Linked DNA regions of Homo sapiens: all the other regions are linked to region 3. The links come from fine-mapping of genetic effects on gene expression. A gene starts in region 3. Each other region holds a variant in brackets. All regions are shown on one strand. Distances are between the middles of the regions.

Region 1 (8,183 bases), 41 kb before region 3:
AAGAAAAGAAAAATGTTGATGGGAGACCCTCCCCAAAGCCACATACAAATGCACAAAGCAGACCACACACACAAAGTACCACAGATACACACGTGTATAGAGTCAGAGCCAGAGAGAGTGTGCCAGACTGGGAGTGAGGGAATCAGAAACAGAGATGCAGGTATACTTAGAGCCAGAGAGAGACACTCACAGAGGCAGAAAGAAGCGCACACAGAAACAAAGACAGCATGTGTTGTTAATGGCTAATTATGAAAAGAAAAATAAAAAAAAACTTTTAAGATCACAAATTCATTGAGTTAATTCTACCACTAATTTTCGTATACTTTCTGTATTAATAAAGTGAAAAACAAAATTCAGAAAAATTTATAAAATTTATATCTATCTTTCTCTCTCCCCCATCCCATTATTACATATAGGAAAAAAGTACTAATTAGCTTAGTTATTCTCAACTTTTGGCCTCTGGGATTCGAATCTGCTTTTTTTGCACTGCAATGTTGTCACTCTTCCAGCCATGATTTACCTACCTGTGACCTTTAGTACACTACCAGTCACCTTGGACACTGGCTTCTTTCAACCCTCATTCTAACTGCTCACCAGCAAACTTATTTAAAATGCTATAATGACAAACATTTACTCTAAAAAATACTATAATCATAACACATGTTCTCACACTTTATCATTAATAAACAACATAAAAATGCCTGGAACATAATGCATACAATCAGAAAAAGCAGTTGGTGAACTTTAGTATAAAATAAGACCCACTAAATAAGCTTTGTTTCAAACTTATTTGTTCCTTTAAACTATTTTGAAAAGAGCAAATAATCCAACTTTCTTACCAAATAAACTTTTATAAGGTTTTCGCATTAATAAAACACTTTTTATCATATATATAATTTTGTGTGTATTTCCAGTCAGAAAAAACTTGACAGGCCGGACGCAGTGGCTCATGCCTATAATCCCAGCACTTTGGGAGGCCGGGTCAGGCAGGCTGCCTGACCTCAGGAGTTCGCCATCAGCCTGGGCAACATGGTGAAACCCTGTCTCTACTAAAATACAAAAAATTAGCCCTAGGCATGGCGGCGTGCGGCTGTAATCCCAGCTACTCAGGAGGCTGGGGCAGGAAAACTGCTTGAACCCAGGAGGCAGAGTTTGCAGTGAGCCGAGATCGCGCCACTGCACTCCAGCCTGGATGACAGAGCAAGACTCCTCTCAAAAAAAAAAAAAAAAAAAAAAAAAAAAAGACACATTTTTTTTTTTTTTTTTTTTTTCCTGAGACCAAGTCTTGCTCTGTCACCCAGGCTGGAGTGCAGTGGCACAATCTCGGCTGCAGCCTTTGCCTCCTGGGTTCAAGCAATTCTCCTGCCTCAGCCTCACGAGTAGCTGGGATTACAGACGAGCGCCACCACGCCCGGCTAATTTTTCTATTTTTAGTAGAGATGGGGTTTCACCAGGTTGGCCAAGCTGGTCTCAAACTCCTAGCTTCAAGTGGCCCACCCGCCTTGGCCTCCCAAAGTGCTGGGATTACAGGCGTGAGACACTGCGCCCAGCCTACCTGACACAATTTTTAAGAAAAACCTGGAGAAAATGAATTGGTGTGACATACTTGACATCTATTTTAGATTTTCAAATGCCATCATCCATCAACACCTGTGTATACCACAGCTTGCAACATTATCATTAACAGAAGAAAAAAATTACAAGGATAGAATAAAAGTTGGAGGCCACAAGGAAAAAAGTGGCACACAGTAGTAAATGAAAGTATATTTTCCCTCAGCAAAGTAAATGATTTGTTGTTCCAAGTCACCAACAACAAAAGATGCCTTTCCCTACCACCACCACAGGCTCACTTGGGAAATGGCCCCACATACTAAGCAAATTCTTTCTCGTAGATAGTAACAACAGATAACACTCAGTGCTTTCAATGCGACAAGCACTGTTTTCCCAATGAATCATGTGTTTATTCACTTAATTATCTATGTACTACACACTGAGGAGAGGAGATAGTTTGGTTTTATTGGTGTTTTTTGTTTTTTGTTTTTTTGAGATGGAGTCTCTCTCTGTTGCCCAGGCTGGAGTGCAGTGGCACCATCTTGGCTCACCGCAACCTCCGCCTCCTGGGTTCAAGCGATTCACATGCCTCAGCCTCCCGAGTTGCTGGGATTACAGGCACCCACCGTAATTTTTTGTATTTTTTAGTAGAGATGGGGTTTCACCAACTTGGCCAGGCTGGTCTTGAACTCTTGACCTCAGGTGATCCACCTGCCTCGGCCTCCCAAAATGCTGGGATTACAGGCTTCAGCCACTGTGCCTGGCCAATTTTGTTGCTTTTTAATCACAAAGTTAATCTCTCATACATACTTACAAGAAAGATTTCATAACTATTTACTACTCAGTAGTAAGTACCTGTGAGCCAGATTCTATACTTGGCACTTTCCTCATACTTTCCCTCATTTAATCTTGGTAACACTGTAAGGCAGTAATTAAATTATTACTTACCTCCACTGTGAATACATTTTCCCTAAATTTTTCCATGGACATCCCAGAAGTCACAAATTAATTTCCACATCTATCTCATTCTTTTACCTTAATCATCACTAGTTTCAGTTTAACTCGGTTCAAAATATCACCTAAATTTTTGTCTACTTCAAAGTTAATATCGTATATTTCATTTTTTAAAAATCTCAATTTTTAGGCTGTTTTAAATTTTATTTTCATGTGTAATCTCTGGATTCACATAATTCACATTATGTTAGGAATCCAGTATTCAATCAAGAACATATGAGGCTTTTATAAAGTATTTCTAAAACAGATTCCTTCTCAAGTAATAGAATTTACAGCATGATATTTTCAAATGAATAAGAAAACTATTTGATTAAATCAGAAAAAAAAATGGCTATTGGGCTAAACCAAGGGTAAAGTTAAGTAGACTTGACTTTTTCTTTTCTTTTTTTTTTTTTGAGACTGAATCTCACTCTATTGCCCAGGCTGGAGTACAGTGGGGTGATCTCAGCTCACTGCAACCTCTTGTCTCCCGGGTTCAGGCAATTCTCATGCCTCAGCCTCCCCAGTAGCTGGGATTACAGATGTCCACCATCATGCCCCACTAATTTTTCATTTTTAGTAGAGACGAGGTTTCACCACATCGGCCAGGCTGGTCTCAAACTCCTGACCTCAAGTGATCCACCCGCCTCGGCCTCCCAAATTGCTGGGATTACAGGCATGAGCGACCGAACCTGGCCTTAAGCAGACTTTTCAAGCATTCATCACTAGCTGCTATAAATAACTAGTGTGGTTATATTCAATTCCTGCCTCAAAGGCTTACAATCTAATTAGACAACACAGATAGAATATGCAGGCAAAAGAAACAGAACAAAAGGATCATGAGCATTAACTAATAAGCAGCCATCAACTTAAGCTCTGACGTATTTCTTCAAGGTTGAAAGAATATCGTAGAAAATGAAGTTCTGACATGTAGATAATAGAAAACGAATATCTGAAAACATGACAAAGAATGCAATGAAAATACAGAATCTAATACTCTTTATCTTAGATAATATAAACTACCAGTTATTTTGCTACATATGCAGTGTCGTGGTCTTTCCCCCTCAAGCAAATATAAAGCCTTATCAACAATTAAATTCAATATGAAGTTAATCAAGGTCAACATATTCTCATCATCAACTATCAACATGATAGCACTAGTAAATTTGCTAGCTAGTGAATTCGCTAGTTGTCTAGCAACCGAATGCCACGGATTCTTCTTACCTTGACATCTGAGTGAATTTAAGACTATCCTTACGTCTATTCTACCACAAATTCTCTCTTTACAAGTTCAGACTTATTGACAGGATTTGCAGTATACTTATTACCCAACCACCTACCCCCCAAATTCTTCTCTCCACCCCACCCTCATATATAAACAGCAAATGAATGCAACTGTAACAGAGAAAAAAAAGAATAAAACAAGGATATTCTTAAACATACAAGAAACATACCGCTTCTGATTTAGCTCAGAGTAAAATGTTCCCTCTAAATGCTAGACTATGGTATGGTGATGACAGTCAAATATTTTTAAGAAGATCACTTACTTCACCATCCCTATCATACTAAAACTTGCTTTGGCAATTTTTCTTAATTTCTTCCTTTTAGATTATCTAAATATGAGTAAGACTAGTAATGCAAACATAGAATTAACTTATTTTAAAATAATTTAAGAAATTAAGTTTAACGAAGCTTAACCTTTTAACTTTTTAATGGCTCACTAAATATACTATAAGACATGTTACCATACAGATTAGAACTCTCCGTTGTTACATTTACTTTTCATTTCCTCATCATTGTTCATTCTCCGCAAAATTCAGCACCAAATAACATTTCTTATTTTATTCACTTAGCCAATAAAGATACTGAACAGTATAATAAAGTAGAACTAAAATCACTGAATAAAACTTACTTTTCAGCAAAATCTTTACTTCTCCATTCTCTTTCTTGATCTCATTCATTACTTTATGTTTCTTTTTTTCTCTTTCTTTTTCTTTGTCTCTCTCTTTAATTTTGTCTTTGATTTTATCTGGAAGACAAAACAAAGGAAATATTTAAAATGAAAAAATTACAACTTCATTTATCTGCACAAACTATAGGTAAATTTCTGGAATTACAATACACAAAGAAAATCAGAATGAGGAACAAATAATGCCTTTTCTTTTTCCTCTCAGGTTTTGGGGAATATTTCTAAATTTCCCTTTTTATTGAATATGAAATACATATTGTCAAAATGTATCATTATACATTTTATTCTAAGTATTCTTCACTTCGTGTCAACCAAAATATTAAATTTATTTCAAATCACTTAAAATAACTAACTTTAGGTGAAGCAAAAGCTACGATGGAAAAGTGCCAGTGTTGAAATTGAGCATCTATGGATTAGCAGCATAACAGAAAAATTACTTGATCTCAGTTTCCTAATCTGTAAATGGTAATTGATACCTTCCTCATTATGGTTACTATAAGGACTAAATGAAAAAATATATAAAATGACTACATAGAGCCTGGCATACATAAG[A/T]CTAGATGTTGGTTCCCTTACCCTTGGCTCCTTTTAAAAATAGTATGACTCAATCTGACTACTTGGTGATACTGTGATATTTAAATAAAGGGCATAATAACTCTAGGGATCATTCATTTGCATTCTAAAACTTCAAACAAAATATTTGATAGCCTATTAAATTCTTCTTTGTTCAAATGACTTCCTATGCACCCAGCAAAAGACAAAATACAGAGAAGGATATACAAATAGTGACATAAACCTTTGCCCTCAAAAAGCTTACGACTGATTACAAAACCATGATGGAAGTATACAAGAACTGTGAAATGTCCTGGAATATAGTAGAGATTATATAGTATACATGCATACTGCATAATCTCTTAAAAATCACTCCTTACTTTCCTTTCTATAAACACTACCATAACCCAGGTCCTAATCATGTAGTGATTAGATTACTGTCTATATAAGCACTGTCCAGATCTAGACAGTAATCTAAATCTGAATTGGTAAACAATTTTATTAATTTTAATGATATATTTTGCTTAACCCAATGGATCCAACACATTATAATTTCAACATGGAACTGATATTTTTAAATGATGAGATATTTTACATTTTTTCATAAGATTTCAAAATCTAACATATATTTTACATTTATGACACATCTCAATTTGAAACTAGTTTCACTTTAAGTGTTGAATAGTCACATAAAACTAGTGTCTACCATACTGAATAGCACAGGTCTAGACTACTTAAATAAATTTTCAAAAAATTAAATTCATGTGCTAATAAACATTTTTAAACTTCAATCATTAATAATATACAAATTAAAAGACATTACTTTCACCTATAACACTGACAAAGTGTTTTTTGTTTTTTTTTTTCAAGTGATAACACTCCAAGCATACGAAAGTACAGCAAACAGGAATTCACTGACTCAACAAATACACAGTCTGAGTACAAGAAAAAGATTAGGGATACAGGGGAGAATAAACGAGATAAAACTCCTTATCTGTTCACATATAACTTAACTTCTGAATTAGATTACAGTGTTCCCACACTTCTGATTGGTTTGCCACTCTTACTTTCTGATGTTAAAGTCCTTGAAATCCTGTCATAGGCTGCTGTCTAGCTATAAAATGTTACTCCAGGCCGGGCGCGGTGGCTCACGTCTATAATCCCAGCACTTTGGGAAGCCGAAGTGGGCGGATCACCCGAGGTCAGGAGTTCAAGACAAGCCTGGTCAATGTGACAAAACCCCATCTATACTAAAAATACAAAAATTAGCCGGATGTGGTGGTGCATGCCTGTAATCCCAGCTACTTGGGAGACTGAGGTAGAAGAATCGCTTGAACCCGGGAGGTGGAGGTTGCAGTGAGCCGAGATCATGCCACTGCACTCCAGGCTGGGTGGCAGAGTGAGATTACATCTTGGAAAAAAAAAAAATGTTACTCCAAGTAGCTGGAGCTTAGACACATTATATAATATTTCCTAAGTAACTAAACTTCTAACAAAATGAACTATTTATATATCACTTAAAATTACAACTGAAAAAAAGTCACCTAAAACGTCTCCACATTTCTTTTTCCAATAATTCAATTTAATCTTATCAACTTAAACGTATTATTTTAGTAACTATTAAATTTTATTAAAGTATAATATTAATGTAATAAAATGAAGATACTTGTGAAACGGCACCACAGAATCCTTCTGTGTTCCCTTCCAGTCTTTGTATAGCACCCCTAAAGGTACTCAGGATGCTGACTTGTAATCATACAGGTTAAAATAACCATAAACTTTTTTTTCTTTTTTTGAGACAAAGTCTTGCTCTGTGGCCCAGGCTGGAGTGCAGTGGCACGATCTCAGCTTCCTGCAACCTCCACCTCCCGGGTTGAAGCAATTCTCCTGCCTCAGCCACCAAGTAAATGGGATTACAGGCACACGCCATCGCACTCGGCTAATTTTTGTATTTTTAGTGGAGATGGGGTTTCGCCATGTTGGCCAGGCTGGTCTCGAACTCCTAACCTCAAGTGATCTGCACGCCTTGGCATCCCAAAGTGCTGGGATTACAGGCGTGAGCCACCACACCCAGCCAACAACTATAAACTTTTAATAGCATATATTCACTATATAAGCCTACCACAATCACAAAACATAAATATTTTTCAGAATAAAATTAAACTAGCTTCTAGGGAAATAAAACTATCATACACTATGACTCAATTATTTTTAAACTTTAGAAATATACATACATTCCAAAAACAAACTGAAAGATAACCCAAATTATTAAAAGCCATTATTTAAAATTATTTATTTAATTAAATATTTAACATATTGAATATATTTAATTTATTTAACATTTAAAATTCCACTATTTAAGGTGGAAAGTTTCTAAGTTTCTGCAATGGGCACATATTAATTTCATAACACAGGAAAAGGAATCTTAGAATATGCACTCGGGTATGATATTAAATAATTCAAGTACAGTTGAAGGTATGAAGTTATTATGTGAAAAACATCTATAGAAACAAAAACAATGGCAAAGCCAAGACAGGAGAGTTATAGACAACGTAATTGCAGTTACCCCTCCTGATATCAAAACATCCTCAGCAAACACAAATAATCCCATCTATACATAAACAAAGGGCATTTTTTTGTGACATCACTTCTGTCCTTAACCCACACATCTGTCTTGCTCTCACCTCTCAGCCTTTCAACCTACCTTTCACCCTTCTTACAATTTTTCCACTTTTTGGTAGAGCCTATCCTTTTTCAAAATCCAGTCTTTTATTCTTTATTTTTTCTTTAATAGAGACAGGGTCTCGCTATGTTGCTGAGGTTGGTCTCGAACTCCTGGGCTCAAGCAATCCTCCTGCCTCAGCCCCTCAAAATGCTCAGATTGCAGGCCTAAGCCACCACGCCCAGCCCAAAATCCAACCTTAAATGCCTCCATTAAACTTCCTGTAGTCATGTTACATGGCAGAGCTATGATAAAGTGGGATACCTACAAACTCAGGAGACCTAGGTTCAAGATTATGCTCTACAACCTAGATAACTGACAAACTTTCAGATCTCCAGTTGCAGCTGTAAAATGGAGTTTGTGTAAAGATTAAATAGAAAATACATACTGAGGCAGTTT
Region 2 (8,183 bases), 88 kb after region 3:
AAGTTGAATATCCAGTAAGATGTTACAAGGCTAAAATAACACTGAATTATAACACAACAAAAGGGAGTTAACTGTGGCTCTTTAATTCTGCTTAACTGAAAAGCATATACACAAGGCCAGGAGTGTTGGCTCATGCCTGTAATCCCAGCACATTGCACACTGGGAGGCCAAGGCGGGCAGACCACCTGAGGTCAGGAGTTCGAGACCAGCCTGGTCAACATGGCGAAACTCCGTCTCTACTAAAAATACAAAAACTAGCTGGGCACAGTGGCGTGCGCCTGTAATCCCAGCTACTCAGGAGGCTGAGGCAGGAAAATCACTTGAACTTGGGAGGTAGAGGTTGCAGTGAGCTGAGACTGTGCCATTGCACTCCAGCCTGGGCAACAAGAGTGAAACTCTGTCTCAAAAAAAAGAAAAGAAAAGAAAAGCATATACACAAATAACTAAAACACTTTATACAAAATGAAATTCAAGTAGAATCAATGCAGAATTACTTGGGTGGGGGTGGAAGGGAAGAGTAAAGAGAACAATGCAATTATTTTTTAAAAAAGTAAAACATTAACGAATTATATGATTTTTGACATGAGATCTTTCCTAACTTTATTTCATTTAGAACATAATTTACCTTATATCGGAGTCATTAAATAGCCATCATAATACAGATACGAATAAGAAGGAAATGAGTTTAAGTAAAAATGTTAAGTGTCCTGGATATTCTTCTCATGTTAGACAAAACACAAGACAACAAAAAAAAGGCTAAATATTACATCTTAACAAAGAGTAAAAGTTTCCTAAAATTAATAGACCAAGAACACCTACCACTCCATCAGCAATTTTCTGAGCTCCATGAATTTCATATAGTTGTAGCTGTTTTTCAAACAGTTGGGCAATAGCTCTATGAACAAGTTCATATTGCTCCTATGAAGGAGAAAAATGATTAAAAAACAAAATGAAAACAACATTTTAAAAAAGAAGAAAGCATTTATAAAATAGCAGTTTATAAAGGGAAACAAACAACTATACCTTTGTTTGTACTGCAGAATGCCTTTGTGTTCTCATTTCTTGTATTAAATTAAATACATTAAATTCCTCTGGTATTTTCTAAAACAGAAAATTTAATACATCAACTTTGTGTATCTATTCAGAAAATAGTAAAATCTTCTTCAGCTTTTCACATAAAACTTAAATACCTGCTGGTTTACTGCAAACATTTATTGAACACCACTTAATGCATCTCAGACACTGTGCTTGGCACTGTGGAAACAAAACTGTTCTTGACCCTCAGCATTCAAGATGGGGAGACAGTTATGTCCAGCCAAAGTATGACTGCAGTATACAGGGAATAAAGAGGCTATGGCTAACTGTTGAGTGTGTGCAGCTACAACATAGTTGGATATCAAAAGAAGGTTATCCCATAAAAAGTGAAGGAAATATACATAAGCACAGCAGATTCAATGTATAATCTATGTGGGGAATTGAGAAGTTTGATGTAAACAAAGCCTAAGACTAAAAGAAGGAGAAGGTACTCAAAGGAGGAGAGAAGATAAGGATATTTAGGATCAGACTGTGAACATAATAAAGAGACTGAATTTATTCTATTGGCCAGTATCTCCTGGATTGGCTATATAAGGACCAGCTAAAAGACCTAGGTAAAAATATAGATCCTTTGGCTCCAAGTTGGGGAACTAATTATGAAACGACCTAGACAATTCTTTTGTGTATATGGAATTGCGACTACTGCAATAGGCAATGTTGACATGAGAAGATCTGATATTCACACAATTTTTGTATCAAGGAAGAGGACAGTCTGAAAGAGTGAGAAACTGGCGGAGGTTTACAGAAGCAGAAATATCATAACTGTTATCAACAAGAATATTTTGGAGTGATTAAGATGGAAGGGTTAAAAATGATTTCCAGGTTTGCTGCTTGGAAGTCCTTATATACATCATAAGATTTTTGGGTTTTTTTTTTGTTGTTTTTTTTTTGAGACGGAGTCTCGCTCTGTCGCCCAGGCTGGAGTACGGTGGCGTGATATCCGCTCACTGCAAGCTCCGCCTCCCGGGTTCACGCCATTCTCCTGCCTCAGCCTCCGGAGTAGCTGGGACTACAGGCCCCCGCCACTACGCCTGGCGATTTTTTTTATATTTTTAGTAGAGACAGGGTTTCACCGTGTTAGCCAGGGTGGTCTCAATCTGCTGACCTCGTGATCCGCCCGCCTCGGCTTCCCGAAGTGCTGGGATTACAGGCGTGAGCCACCGCGCCCAGCCAAGATTTTTACATGAAGACTTAACAACTAGGCCGGGTGCAGTGGCTCATGTCTGTAATCCCAGCACTTTGAGAGGCCAAGGCAGGCGGATCACCTGAGGTCAGGAGTTTGAGACCAGCCCGAAACACGGTGAAACCCCATCTCTACTAAAAATACAAAAATTAGCCAGGCATGGTGCCGCGTGCATGTAATCCCAGCTACTCGGGAGACTAAGGCAGGAGAATCGCTTGAACCTGAGAGTCAGAGGTTGCAGTGAGCCGAGATTACACCACTGCCCTCCAGCCTAGGCAACAGAGTGAGACTCCATCTCAAAAAAAAAAAAAAAAGAGAGAGAGAGAACTATGTTCAAAATACACAACTTTTATTTTATTTTATTTTTTGAGACGGAGTCTTGCTCTGTCACCCAGTTTGCAGTGCAATGGCACAATCTCGGCTCACTGCAACCTCTGCCTTCCAGGTTCAAGCAATTCTCCTGCCTCAGCCTGACAAGTAACTGGGATTACAGGCGCCGGCCACCACGCCTGGCTAATTTTTGTATTTTTAGTAGAAATGGGGTTTCACCATGTTGGCCAGGTTGGTCTCAAACTCCTGACCTCAGGTGATCCGCCCACCTCAGCCTTCAAAAGTGCTGGAATTATGGCATAAGCCATGGCACCTATCCAAAATACACAACTTTTAAAATGACCAAATGTTTGTTTTGTTTGCTAGCATTCATTTATGTGTCCCTTCTCATTCCAATTTTAATCTTTGACTTTTATGTTAAAATGTGATCGAATTCCAGTTAAATTTTGTTCACTTAAGCATTTTCATTTGAGAATTAGATGATTATAGTTTTTGAGGAAAAAAATATTTAACCCCAGAGGGCTTTTTAAGGAACTGTTTAACATGTAAATATTTCCTTGCAACAATAAAAAATGGAGAGATGGCAGGGAAAAAAGAGAAATAAGGGGAAGAAGGAAGAAAAAGAAAAAATAAACATTTTATTAATTCTACTCTGTACAAGACAAAGATGAACAATTCATGGAAACTATAAAGCTATGAAGGATTAAAGGCGCCTCTCTAGAAATGAACACATTATGGAACCAGCAAAAGAATCAAATGTATACATAATGAAGAGACTTGTTTTTCAAATCTATAATGAAGGCTGTATCTTATTTATCTCTGTATCATCCACAGTATCAAACACTATTTCTTGGAAAAAGCAGTAGTAGGAACAACAATCACAACAGCAACAGTAATCAACACTAACAATAAACTGAGTACTTACAATTTACCACATAGTTCTGAAGAACTTCACAAAAGTTATTTAATTCTTATGCATTACTACTACTATGACCCCTATTTTCTGATAAAGAAATAGAGGCACTATGGGATTAGTATTTTGACCAAGATCCCACAGCTAGTAAATGAGAAAGCCAGAATTATAATCTGGGCAATTTGGCTCGAGTCAGCATTCATAGACTACAATACTATAATGTCTCCAGCAGGCATAAATACATACTGAGTGAAATACACTTATACCTAGA[G/A]TAAACATAAAAGGCAATGGGCCAGGCACCGTAGCTCACGCCTACAATCCCGGCACTTTGGAAGGCCGAGATGAGTGGATCACCTGAGGTCAGAAGTTCGAGACCAGCCTGGCCAACATGGTGAAACCCTGTCTGTACCAAAAATATAAAACATTAGCTGGGCGTGATGGCAGGCACCTGTAATCCCAGCTGCTAGGGAGGCTGAAGCAGGAGAATGGCTTCAACCCAGGAGGTGGAGGTTGCAGTGAGCTGAGATCGCACCATCGCACTCCAGCCTGGGCAACAAGAGTGAAACTCTATCTCGGAAAAAAAAGAAAAAAAAAAAAAGGCAATGAAAATTTAGTATTGGAAAAGTCAGTAACAGTTTATATCCTAATGCAAGTATTCACTCACCTAGAACACTGTCACATTGTTCCCCAATGCATCCTATCAAAGGCAATATGCAGCAATTATACCTTTTCTCCACCTTTATTTTTTATAATCATTTTATTTTTTAATTATTTTTAGAGACGGGGGTCTCCCTATGTTCCCCAGGCTGGTCTCGAGCCCCAGGGCTCAAGCGATCCTCCCACCTTGGCCTCCCAAAGTGCTAGGATTACAGGCGTAAGCCACTGTGCCCGGCCTTCACTACCTTTATTTCTTACTTAATAAAACTACTTTGGAAAAAATAACATGTATAATAAAATATACACTATAATTTACTGCAATTATAATTAAGTTTGAAAATCATAATAGATCAATTGAACATAATGCTACAAAAAATTATTCTTACCCCAGCTTTTAGTAAATTCCACGTATAATCTATGGCACAAATGGCACCTGTTCTTCCACAGCCTGCACTAAGGATATAAAGTTTGAAAAACAATTGATTTTTGTGATAAAACAACTATAAAATAAATGTGGATAGACATGTTAATATTCAGAAACAAAAAATCATTTAAGAAGTTTGACAAAATTCTACTTAGTAATAAACAAAATACAACTTACAGTGTGTTCATGGCAACATCTGTTACACAGAATACATATACATATACACTATGATTTTTCCTATATGTACATACCTATGATAAAGTTTAATTTATAAATCAGGCACAACAAGAGATTAACAACAATAACTAATAATACATTAGAACAATTATAACAATCTATCACTAGTCACTACCTCACTACTGTTGAGGTTTGGGCCATTATAAGTAAAATAAGGGTCATGTGAACATAACCACTGGGACACCATGACAGTCCATCTGGTAACTGCAGTATCTACTATGTGACTAATGGGCTGGTAGAGTCTACAGTGTGTACACACTGGACCATGGGATGATTTATCTTGCAAGCAGGACATACTTCCCCATGCTTCTCAGAATGGTGCAGCATTTAAAACTTACAAAGTGTTTACTTCTGAAATTTTCCATTTGATATTTTTGAACTATGAGTAACTGAAACTGAGGACAGTGAAGTCTTGAATAAGGAAGGCCTATTGTCTTCTATCTTTTAAACATTTCATTTTTAAGGGGTTGGGCGCAGTGGCTCATGCCTGTTGTCCCAGCACTTTGGGAGGCCAAGGCAGAAGGATTGCTTGAGCCTGGGAGGTCGAGGCTGCAGTAAGCCATGATGGCACCAATGCATTCCAGCCTGGGTAACAGAGTGTGACTTCATCTCAAAAAGAAAAACAAAAATTAATTTAAGGAACTTCCAAGAGTAAGTGACACAGAGAATAGCTACTAAGTTGTCACTCTGGAAGTCTAATGCTACATCAGAAAATGTGACTAGCTAACAACGTCTTACAGAGACATTTATTCTATGTTCAAGATGGCTCTTGTGGCTGGGCGCAGGGGCTCATGCCTGTAATCTCAGCACTTTGGGAGCCTGAGGCCGGTGGATCACTTGAGGTCAGGAGTTTGAGACCACCCTGGCCAACACGGTGAAACCCCATCTCTACTGAAAACACATAATTAGCTGGGCGTGCTGGCAGACACACGCAATCCCAGCTATTCAGGAGGCTGAGGCAGGAGAATCACTTGAACCGGGGAAGTGGAGGTTGCAGTGACCCAAGATCGTGCCATTGCACTCCAGCTTGGGCAGCAAGAGTAAAACTCCAACTCAAAAAAAAAAAAAAAAAAAAAAAAAAGATGGCTCTTGTTTTAGAGTACAGGAGGAAATGGTACATCATTTCAATCTATAGAAGGTATAGGAAAGGTGAAGAATGCTATAAGCCCTAGAAAACGGATTGAGCAACAGCAGTGATTTCCACAAAAGAACAAGACAATGATATGCTCTCATATCCCAAAAAACTAATGGGAGCTGGGGACTTTAGAGTAACATACCATAGGTTTTTTTATTTTAAAACATGACAGGCTGGGCTCAGTGGCTCACGCCTGTAATCCCAACACAATGGGAGGCCAAGGAGGGCGGATCACCTGAGGTCAGGAGACAAGCCTGGCCAACGTGGTGAAACCCCGTCTCTACTGCAAATACAAAAAAAAAAAATTAGCCGGGCGTGGTAGTGGGCGCCTGTAATCCCAGCTACTTGGGAGGCTGAGGCAGGAGAATCACTTGAACCTGGGAGGCGGAGGTTGCAGTGAGCTGAGATCACGCCATTGCACTCCAGCTTGGGCGACAGAGCGAGACTCCGTCTCAAAAAAAAAAAAAAAAAAAAAAAAAAAACTCATGACAAAAGTATTTTAAAGTAACTGCTTCTCAACTAGAGAAAGGCTTATGCATCTTAGAATTGAAAATCACTATGAGTAATTATAAGATGTTACTGACATCACCAGAATAATCTTTGGCAAAAACCCCCACAAAGTTGTGTAACATTTTAATGCATATTTTGAAATGTATACCTATCAGCAGTTTGTTAAACATGTAACCTAAAATTCCTGATAAAAGTACACTATAAACAACCTAGAAAGATTTTTTAAAACTCTTAATAAACATAATCAATTATATTAATTTTTAGTTGATACATTTGTGAATTCTGTGCATCAAAACATTTATAGAATTTTAGTTGAGTTACTGGGATAAATTATATATATCTAAAATTTGATAGTTAAAAGTATAACATAAAGATACAGATAACCAGATCAATGAAACACAATAGAAAGTTCAGGAACAGATCTGAGTACATGTAACATTTCTTACATAACAGTGAATTCTCCAGAGATCAGACCGTTCAGTAAGTGGCAAAGGAGAAGTTAGCTATCAATGAAGAGCAAAAAATTAAATTCTGATCACATACCTTAACCATAAAAAATCCAGGTGGATAAAAATATATATATATATATGATATAAACATATTGGATATTTATCCAATGATAAATGTTAAAAAGTAAATCTATGAAAGTACTAAAAATATATGCAAAATATATACACTATTGTGTTAGGGAAAGACTTTCTATGTACAAATATCTCAATGGACAAAAACCATTCAAAAATCTGACATGACAAAATGAAACTTATGTATTGCAAACAGGCAGAAGACAGGAAAAACCATGGTACTTACAACATGAATAAAAGTTAATGTCCTCAATATATAAAGCACTTGTATAACTATTAAAAGATGAGGCTGGGCGCAGTGGTTCACGCCTGTAATCCCAGCACTTTGGGAGGCCGAGGCAGGTGATCACCTGAGGTCAGGAGTTCAAGACCAGCCTGACAAACATGGAGAATCCCCAACTCTACTAAAAATATAAAATTAACCGGGTGTGGTGGTGCATGCCTATAATCCCAGCTACTCGGGAGGCTGAGGCAGGAGAATCACTTGAACCCAGGAGGCAGAGGTTGCAGCAAGCCAAGATCGCACCATTGCACTCCAGCCCAGGCGACAGCCCAAGACTCCGTCTCAAAAAAAAAAAAAAAAAAAAAAAAGGAAGAAAAAAATGCAAACAAAGGCTGGGAACCGTGGCTCACACCTGTAATCCCAGCACTTTGGGAGGTGGAGGCGGGCAGATCATGAGGTCAGGAGTTCAAGACCAGTCTGGCCAACATAGTGAAACCCCGTCTCTACTAAAAAATACCCAAAATTAGCTGGGTGTAGTGGTGTGTGCCTGTAATCCCAGTACTCGGGAGGCTGAGGCAGGAGAATCGCATGAACCCAGGAGGCAGAGGTTGCAGTGAGCTGAGATCGTGCCATTGCACTCCAGCCCGGGCGACAGTGCAAGACTCTGTCTCAAAAAAAAAAAAAAAAAAAAAAAGCAAACAAAAAGATAACACACAGTATTGGGGAAGGTATAGGGAAATAGGTACTCTCACATACTGCCAGTGGCAGAATTAAGTAGCATCAATTTTCTGGATAACACATTAAAAAATACTCATTAAAATACTTTAAAAGTTTATGTCCTTGACCAACAAATCTCACTTCTGGATATTTATCCAATAATAACTTTGTCCTAATA
Region 3 (8,183 bases):
AAATATTTGTTGTGGTTTGCCATAAAATAATTCTAAATTTTGGATACCCTTGGTATATGTCCACTTTTACTTTCCACACTTACCAATTCTACAATTTATTCAGTCTTACAGGAATATTGATTAACTCTCCAGTAAATTACCTCCGTAAGCACTAAAATCAGGTTATTTTCTGGTTTTAAAAATCTAAAATGTTGGCCAGGCACGGTGGCTCACGCCTGTAATCTCAGCACTTTGGGAGGCCAAGGCAGGCAGATCACAAGGTCAGGAGTTTGAGACCAGCCTGGCCAACATGGTGAAACCCCCTCTCTACTAAAAATACAAAAATTAGCCAGGCGTGTTGGCGAGTGCCTATAATTCCAGCCACTCGGGAGGCTGAGGCAGGAGAATTGCTTGAACCCGGGAGGCGGAGGTTGCAGCGAGCCGAGATCGCGCCACTGCACTCCAACCTGGCCAACAAGAGCGAGACTCTGTTTCCAAAAAAAAAAAAAAAATCTAAACTGTTTTGCACTTTTCCTTCTTATAAGAAATTTAACTTTTACTTGGTGAGTCAAGCTATCACGCAAGTCAGCTACAGTACTATGATTAGATGGCCTTAGAGATTGTGAGGCATCAGGCCCTGGTACTAAATGGGGCCATATTAGTATACTTTCATAATTCTCTTGTTCAGCATTCTTAACTTTCATATCTGTCAATGATCCTTCCTCTATCAGCATTCACCCATCTTTCAATTAGTTATAGGGTTAAAAAATTAATAACTATGCTTCAGACTCAAATAACATTTACTAAATACCCTGCTAGGCCCTTTCTTATACATGCTTTCATTTAACCCAAATACGTTCTGTTAGAATGGTCACCAATGTAAAAATAAAGCAGTTCTGACTTAGGACTTTTTAAAAGCCCTACTATTAATAAATACAGGAGCTTAATTGTTTAATCAAATTGGGGTGCAGGCTAGGTCTTTCGAGTGTGTGTGGTTCAGTTTTGTTTTGTTGAGGGAGAATCTCTTCCTTGTTTAGGTGTCTTTATAGCTAATGTCTGGTTCTGACTCAGACTGTTCAATCAGCCAGCTGTGGATAATTGAGGGGTTACTGAACCATGCACAGCCAACTTAGGGCAACACTAAAAAGAGGTATATACCTAAACAAACACTTGGTCACCCATTCACTAAGATTTTTACAAAAAGCACAGAGAAATGATCATTGTATTGCAAATCAGGACTTTCATATTTGCAATTATATCTATAATAAAGGCATATATGTATTCTTGCTATACCACTTGTTAATACCGCTATTTAAGAATCTTCTTAATTCGTTAAAACAGAACATCAATTCAGTTAAATCCAAACTTTAGAAAGATATAAGTATTCCCCAAGTTACGAGGGAAAAATTTTCACCATTAAATTTACCACCAAGACACTGGAAAGGAATCTTTTTCTCTGATAGTTTTTCCTCAACAAGATAGCATTTGTGTCTGAAAAAATGAAAATCTTACAGTAGTGTTAATATCTTGTCACTACTCCAAAAAACCCACATAGGTCATGGGAAAAGATCATTCCCACATCTTAATGTAAAACCTATCACTGTTTATATTCAGGATTAATAATATTAGTGTTAACCCTCAAAAGAAGAAGGATTCTAAATGTAATTGAAAAGACTATAAAAATTCCTCTTTAACAGCCATTTCACTTTAAGGACCATTTGTGTACTCCACATTTTAAGTTAGAATTGTTAAAGAATGCTTACTTATTTCTTCTCAAATATTCCATTACTCCAACTATGTAATACTCATATTCACTTCCTCTTTCAGAGAACTTACAGCAAATGTGCAGTTTACACACCACAAACACTAGTGATGATACCAAGCTGCATATGGACAAACTTCCAGGCACTTATCTCCTAAATTTTACATATAAATTGTTAAAACAAAATAGCTTTAAAATACTAATCACCTGGAATTCCTGACTAAAAGTACCAAAATCCCATCCTCAAAACCACTTTCCTAGAAACAACACTCCCAGAAGCTGAAAGATATTTACATTGCACCAGAGTCCCTGATGGCTATGCTTAGATGTTAAAGCTTTGCTACAGGCAAAAAATATCAAGGAAGAAGTGACACTATTGCTACATGCACATGCAGCATGTTTTAAGTTGTGAAAACAAACCATTATAATCCAAACAGAATTTTTCATGATCTGAGCTACTGTTAGATCAGCAATGCTGAAACTGCTTGACATTTCTTTTTCTAAAAAACAAAAAGAGTTATTTGACAACACTGTGTAGCAGTGCACATTTATAATAAAGATTATGCGCTTTAAGCTTGCGATCACATAAAGATTTGATTTTCAACTAGTCCGTATGTTGCACTATTGTCAGATCATTGTGTATCCGTAGCTGAAGTGGTGGAAACACCTGAAAAATTATACGACTAGCCTACATTTAAAAACAAAACTGACCCTGTCTGACAAGAACCCTTAAGAATTCGCCTTTTTCTAATGCTCAAACATTCTGCAGCCGCTTGATCTGGCGAAAAATCGTCAAAGCTCCTGGTTTTATCATTTGCTGCAGGGAAAAAAAGAATATGGCTGAAAATTCTTTCAGAAGGGTGGTATTTCAAACAGGACCACCCAAAACACTTAAGAATACGCAGCGGAGAGTAGGGTGCAGGGAGGGTACCTTACGAAACAGCGCACTTCGGGCCCTGCACGCTACCTCATTTCCCTAATAGGGATGAAAAGCTCAGGCCTCTGGTAGCTTCCAGCTGACGCCAGTGCTCTCTCCACACCCCTTTTTTGACAGGATTATCCGGGGTTGAACGCTGTGTCACAAATACGAATTCCCGCGACCACGTCTAAGTGGTCTAACAATCAATCAAGCATCTTTTACAAAACCAAACCCTTCCCCCATCCCGTTCCCTCCATCTCTCTCCCTAGCCAAACAAACCTAGGAGAGTCCTCAAGATGGATTTTCACAAATCCTGCAGCGCACTAACTGGGAGGAAGAAACGATACAGAAAATAAGAGTGTCGGCCATCCCCCTCTCTGCAACCGAAATTACAGGCTCCATTTCCTGTCCCCTTGGGAACTGCAAAATCCTCTGCTGAAAACCGGACGCCTCCCAGCCCCTCCAGGCCGGCGCACGCGGCCGCCGCGCTCCCCCTTCCCGGGCCCCGTGGGCGCCAGGGGGCGGCGGGGACCCACGGCGCCCTCCCCTCCCCCTCCCCGCACGGCACCCACCTCGGGGCAGCGGCTTCACCTCCCCGTTCTCCTCCCGGGAGGCCCCGCCGGCCTCTCGGGCCCCACCGAGACCGTGCCTCCTCCTCTCCTTCTCCCGCTTCTCCTTAGGTCTGCGCGACTTGGCGTTAGCCGAGGCAGCGGCGGCGGCGGCGGGCAGGAGGAGATGGTGAGGCTGAGCGTGCAGCAGCGTAGGAGGGACCAGCAGTTTGCGCGGCACCGGCTGAGACAAGGAAGCGGAGGCTGAGGAGGGAACGGCCGTGCCAGCGGAGAAAGAGAAACTGCTCCGAGAAGAGGACGGGGAGGGAGCAGCAGACAGAGGGGCAAAGCTCCAAGACGCGGGGCTGCCATAGCTCTGAGGCGAAGGTGCTGCCGGCGGCTGCAGCTGCCTGCTGTTCCCGCCGCTGCCCCCTTCTCCGTTCACTCTCCGCGGTGCCTTCTTCTCCTCAGTCCGGACCTTCTTGGCGGACAGAGAACCCGGAGGGTCCCGGGAGGAGAGTTGCAGCTTGCCAAACGGTTCTTTCTCCGAGACGGTGGCGGTGGGGGCCGCGGCAGCGACACAGTGCACGGGGCTCGGCGGTTCCGCCATTTTGCGCTCCTGTTGTATTTACTCTCCTCCGCTAGCCGGCGCGGGGCAGGGGGCGGGCCCTCCGCGAGGGGTAGGGAAGGGGCGGAGCGGCCAGGCCACCAGCCGGCATTGCTCCATTGGGCAAGCCACGCTGAGGGATCCACCTAAGAGCCAATCAAAGGCACAAACATCAGACGAAGGGGCGGGATCGCCACAGGGACCCTCTTCGGAGGTCAGAGCTCGGCGGGGTGCGGCTAGTGGCGGAGCGCGCTGCGAGGGGAGGGCTTTCCACTGTCGCTGGCGTGAACTCGCGTGCCCGGTGGGTATCAGGGAAGAACCCCCGCCCCGGACCCCCAGATCTGCCATGGCCGAGGTAGCGATCGTCTCTGCGGCCACGAAGACTGTTTTAACTTGTACCACTTTCCCTTCCATTTTTCCTGGGGTGCCTCTCACCCTGCATCTGCGCGTTCAGCAAGCTGGATTTCGGGAATGCTCAGTTCAGAAGAGAAAAAATTGCCGGGAATCAAGTCCTTCTTTTTGTTAGTCGGTAGTCGATTGATGGGAAGTGTTCAAAATCATTCGATGTGGTGACAAGGTACGTTATTATTGCTAGATCATGTGCTGTAATCCATTGAAGGAGATAACTTCCAGCAAATCTAGAACTTTAGTATTACTTACAAGCTTGAAGGTGAGAGTCTCCCTTTGGAGACTTTTGAACTGTTGTGACTAGACCCTTAAGATTTTTATTTTATTTATTTATTTATTTATTGGGACGGAGTTTTGCTCTGTTGTCGAGGCTGGAGTGCCGTGGCGCGATCTCGGCTCACCGCAACCTCCGCCTCCCAGATTCAAGCGATTCTCCTGCCTCAGCCTCCCCAGTAACAGGGACTACAGGCGTCCGGCACCATGCTTGGCTAATTTTTGTGTTTATTAGAGACGGGGTTTCACCATGTTGGCCAGGCTGGACTCGAACTCCTGATCTCAGGTGAGCGGCCCACCTCCGCTTCCCAAAGTGCTGGGATTACAGGCGTGAGCCACCATGTGCGGCCTTAAGATTTGAATTTTATAATAATTATTATAGCCGGGCGCGGTGGCTCACACCTGTAATCCCAGCACTTTGGGAGACCGGGGCGGGCGGATCACGAGGTCAGAAGTTCGAGACCAGCCTGACCAACATGGTGAAACCCCGTCTCTACTAAAAATGCAAAAATTAGCTGGGCATGGAAGCGCGCACCTGTAATCCCAGCTACTGGGGAGGCTGGGGCAGGAGAATCGCTTGAACCCAGGAGGCGGAGGTTGCAGTGAGCCGAGACTGCGCCACTGCACTCCAGCTTGGGCGACAGGGCAAGACTCCGTCTCAAAAAATAATAATAATAATAATAATATTATTATTATTATAACGTAGACTTGCCAGGAAAAATTCGTTGGCGATTATTTATGGATGTTTGAAAAGCAAGAATTGTTTTTTTAGGTTTCTGTATTTTAGCGTTTAGTAAGCACACTGCGTGTTCGATGTTTTGTAAGCATGTGCTTTGATTTTTGCTTCGAAAATAAGCAATTTGGGGAGATGGGTTTTAGCTTAAAAGATAAGGAATGTGGCCGGGCGCGGTGGCTCATACCTGTAATCCCAGCACTTTGGGAGGCCAAGGCGGGCAGATCACAATGTCAGGAGTTCGAGACCAGCCTGGCCAACATAGTGAAACCCTGCCTCTACTAAAAATACATAATTAGCTGGGCGTAGTGGCATGCGCCTGTAGTCCCAGCTACTCTGGAGGCTGAGGCAGAAGAATCCCTTGAATCTGTAAGGCAGAGGTTGCAGTAAGCTGAGTTCGTGCCATTGCACTCCACCCGGGGCGACAGTGCCTATTTACTCATTTTTTTAAGAATATTTTTAAGAATTTTTTTTTTTTCGGCCAAGAGTGGTGGGTGGCTCACGCATGTAATCCCAAGACTTTAGGAGGCGGTGATGGGTGGATCACCTGAGGTCAGGAGTTTGAAACCAGCCTGACTGACATGGTGCAACCCCGTCTCTACTAAAAATACAAAAAAAATTAGCCAGGCGTGGTGGTGCGTGCTTGTAGTCCCAGCTCCTCGGGAGGCTAAGACAAAAGACTCGCTTGACCCCTGGAGGTGGAGGTTGCAGTGAGCTGAGATCGTGCCACTGCACTCCAGCCTGGGTGACAGAGTAAGACTCCATCTCAAAAAAAAAAAAAAGAATGTTTTGGAGTCAAATTTAATATTGGTTTATGGACTTATTTTTATGTGCCTCAAATTTTTTAAAGTAATAACAGTATTTAATATGTAACATGAAAACTTTCTAATTGGAATTGACTGGCAGCAGATGTCTTCAAGAAAATTAGCATTGGTGGGAGAGTGGACTGAGTGGATTAGGCTGGAAATCATCTGCTAACGCACTAGTTTCGTGACCTTAGTCAGGCTGCTTCACTTGTTAGGACCTCCGTTTTCTTACCTGTTGAGTTAGCATATTTGATTACGTGATCACTAAGGTCCCTTCCACACTCAACTTATGCCATATTCAAGAAGCTTTTCAAAATCACACCGAAACCATTACAATTGAATTCATTTTTTAATTGTTGGCCCTCCTGATCTAGAAAAGTGTCTCTAACATACATTAATGTAGTGCCTGGAAACTTGCACCACTCATTCTCTAATCTCTAGCACACAGGTCTGGAAAATCGGACTTCTTAAGAGCCCAGTTAAACTACACCCTTGCCTGCATGAATTTGTTACTCCTTGCATTACATTATACTTTCATGCACTGTTATTAGGCCTGGCACTTAATTTGTAGAGCCTAAGCAAGAGTGTGGCTATAGAGGTCCACACACCATCTGTCTAAATATTTAAAAAATAAATCAAGATAACAAACTATTATATAAAATACATTCTATTCTACTACCTTGACAGATCCACTTTCATATGATCTGGAAGTCCATGTTTGAATTTAGAGTTCTTAGAGTCCCCACACTGACCCCATTCTCCTCCCATCCCCAAGTTCACCTGCCACACGGAAAGGCCATACATGCACCCAACATGTCCAGGTGTATGTCCACATCCCCCTACTCCGCAAATGGTGATGTACAATCGGCAGCTCACTCTGCCCTCAGATCTAGCCAGTCTAAAAGAGGAGGGCAGGCTCCAGGCAGACATGGCCCCTGACCTCATGGGCTCCTTGTTCTTTACAGCAAGAGGAGGGCCAAGTAAACAGAGGCCCCTTACCCAGATCTAAAGACAGGACTTGTCTGTTATTAAAACATGCGCAACTATCTCTTTTCTGTGCTGTGTAATTAGCCATTCCCTTTCAACTAGATTATTCTTGTCAACACTTAACTGGCAGAGGTTTTCTACCACTATCACCAATTTCTTTTAGCATAATCTCTTTATAATCTCATATAGGTTTTCCATTCTACAGCTAGAAAGCTCTTTTCAAAACCTTGGCCGGGTACAGTGGCTCATGCCTGTAATCCCAGCACTTTGGGAGGCCGAGGCAGGCAGATCACCTGAGGTCAGGAGTTTGAGACCAGCCTAGCCAACATGGTGAAACTTTGTCTCTACTAAAAATACAAAAATTAGCTGGGCATGGTGGCACGTCCTTGTAGTCCAGCTACTCGGGAGGCTGTGGTAGAGAATCGCTTGAATCTGGGAGACGGAGGTTGCAGCGAGCCAAGATCACGCCACTGCACTCCAGCCTGGGCGACAGAATGAGACTCTGTCTCAAAAAAAAAAAAAAAACGAAAACGAAAAAACCTGGATCTGACCATCTCTCTTGCCTTGCTTCAGACCTGAAGTCAATGGCTTTCATTGCTCTCGGGACAAAAAACAAAATCCTTAATGTGTCCTGTAAGACCTTTCATGAACTATCCCCTTCTTCTATTTCAAACTAACAGGTCTTTAATCTCCAGAACCCACCATGTTGTCTTTCAACATAGAAACATTGCATATGTGATTCTCTCTACTTGACGTGCTTTTTCCTTTGGCTGTTGCCTATGTGATGATTTGGATAATGAACATAAGGGAGGCAGATATCATGAATACCTTCTATATTTCTAACCAGCAAAACTTGGCAGTGGTACCATTCCCTGAGCCAAGAAACAGTGGAAGAGTGACAAGTTTCAGGTACTCTTGGACCTTGGACCTGTTGAACGCGACGTGCCTTTTCTCATCTCCATTCCTTTTTGCTTTTCAGTCGTTGGTGTTGTTGACTCACTGGTTATCTCTTGCTTCCTTTTCCATTTCATTCTCTGTAACAGCTCTACCGAAAGCATACTACCCTACCTACCCTACACCCTGCTTCTCCACCTTTTTTTTTTCTTTTTTCTTTTTTTTTTTTTTTTTTTTGAGGTCAGGTCTCAGCTCTATCACCCAGGC

What was found.
Region 1: its variant is fine-mapped to the expression of APTR in whole blood (INTERVAL, PIP above 0.99).
Region 2: its variant is fine-mapped to the expression of APTR in tibial artery (GTEx, PIP above 0.99).

Annotation. Positions count from the first base shown.
Region 1 is chr7:77,732,800-77,740,982 of GRCh38, reverse strand. RSBN1L (round spermatid basic protein 1 like) reads right to left here. Exons shown (of 8, transcript NM_198467.3): 2 at 4,457-4,573. Among named protein-coding and RNA genes, the nearest start is that of RSBN1L, 40 kb to the right of the region's middle. The variant A/T (reference allele first, on the strand shown) is at 5,066.
Region 2 is chr7:77,603,683-77,611,865 of GRCh38, reverse strand. PTPN12 (protein tyrosine phosphatase non-receptor type 12) reads right to left here. Exons shown (of 18, transcript NM_002835.4): 9 at 4,565-4,631; 10 at 1,024-1,101; 11 at 820-918. Among named protein-coding and RNA genes, the nearest start is that of PTPN12, 70 kb to the right of the region's middle. The variant G/A (reference allele first, on the strand shown) is at 3,793.
Region 3 is chr7:77,692,105-77,700,287 of GRCh38, reverse strand. APTR (Alu-mediated CDKN1A/p21 transcriptional regulator) reads left to right here and starts at 4,023. Exons shown (of 2, transcript NR_134254.1): 1 at 4,023-4,392. It overlaps RSBN1L (round spermatid basic protein 1 like), which reads right to left and starts at 3,829. Exons shown (of 8, transcript NM_198467.3): 1 at 3,233-3,829. The coding sequence starts at 3,818. RefSeq lists silencers at 2,609-2,708, 2,999-3,318, 3,789-4,008 and enhancers at 3,529-3,758, 2,943-3,838, 3,839-4,734, 7,721-8,183.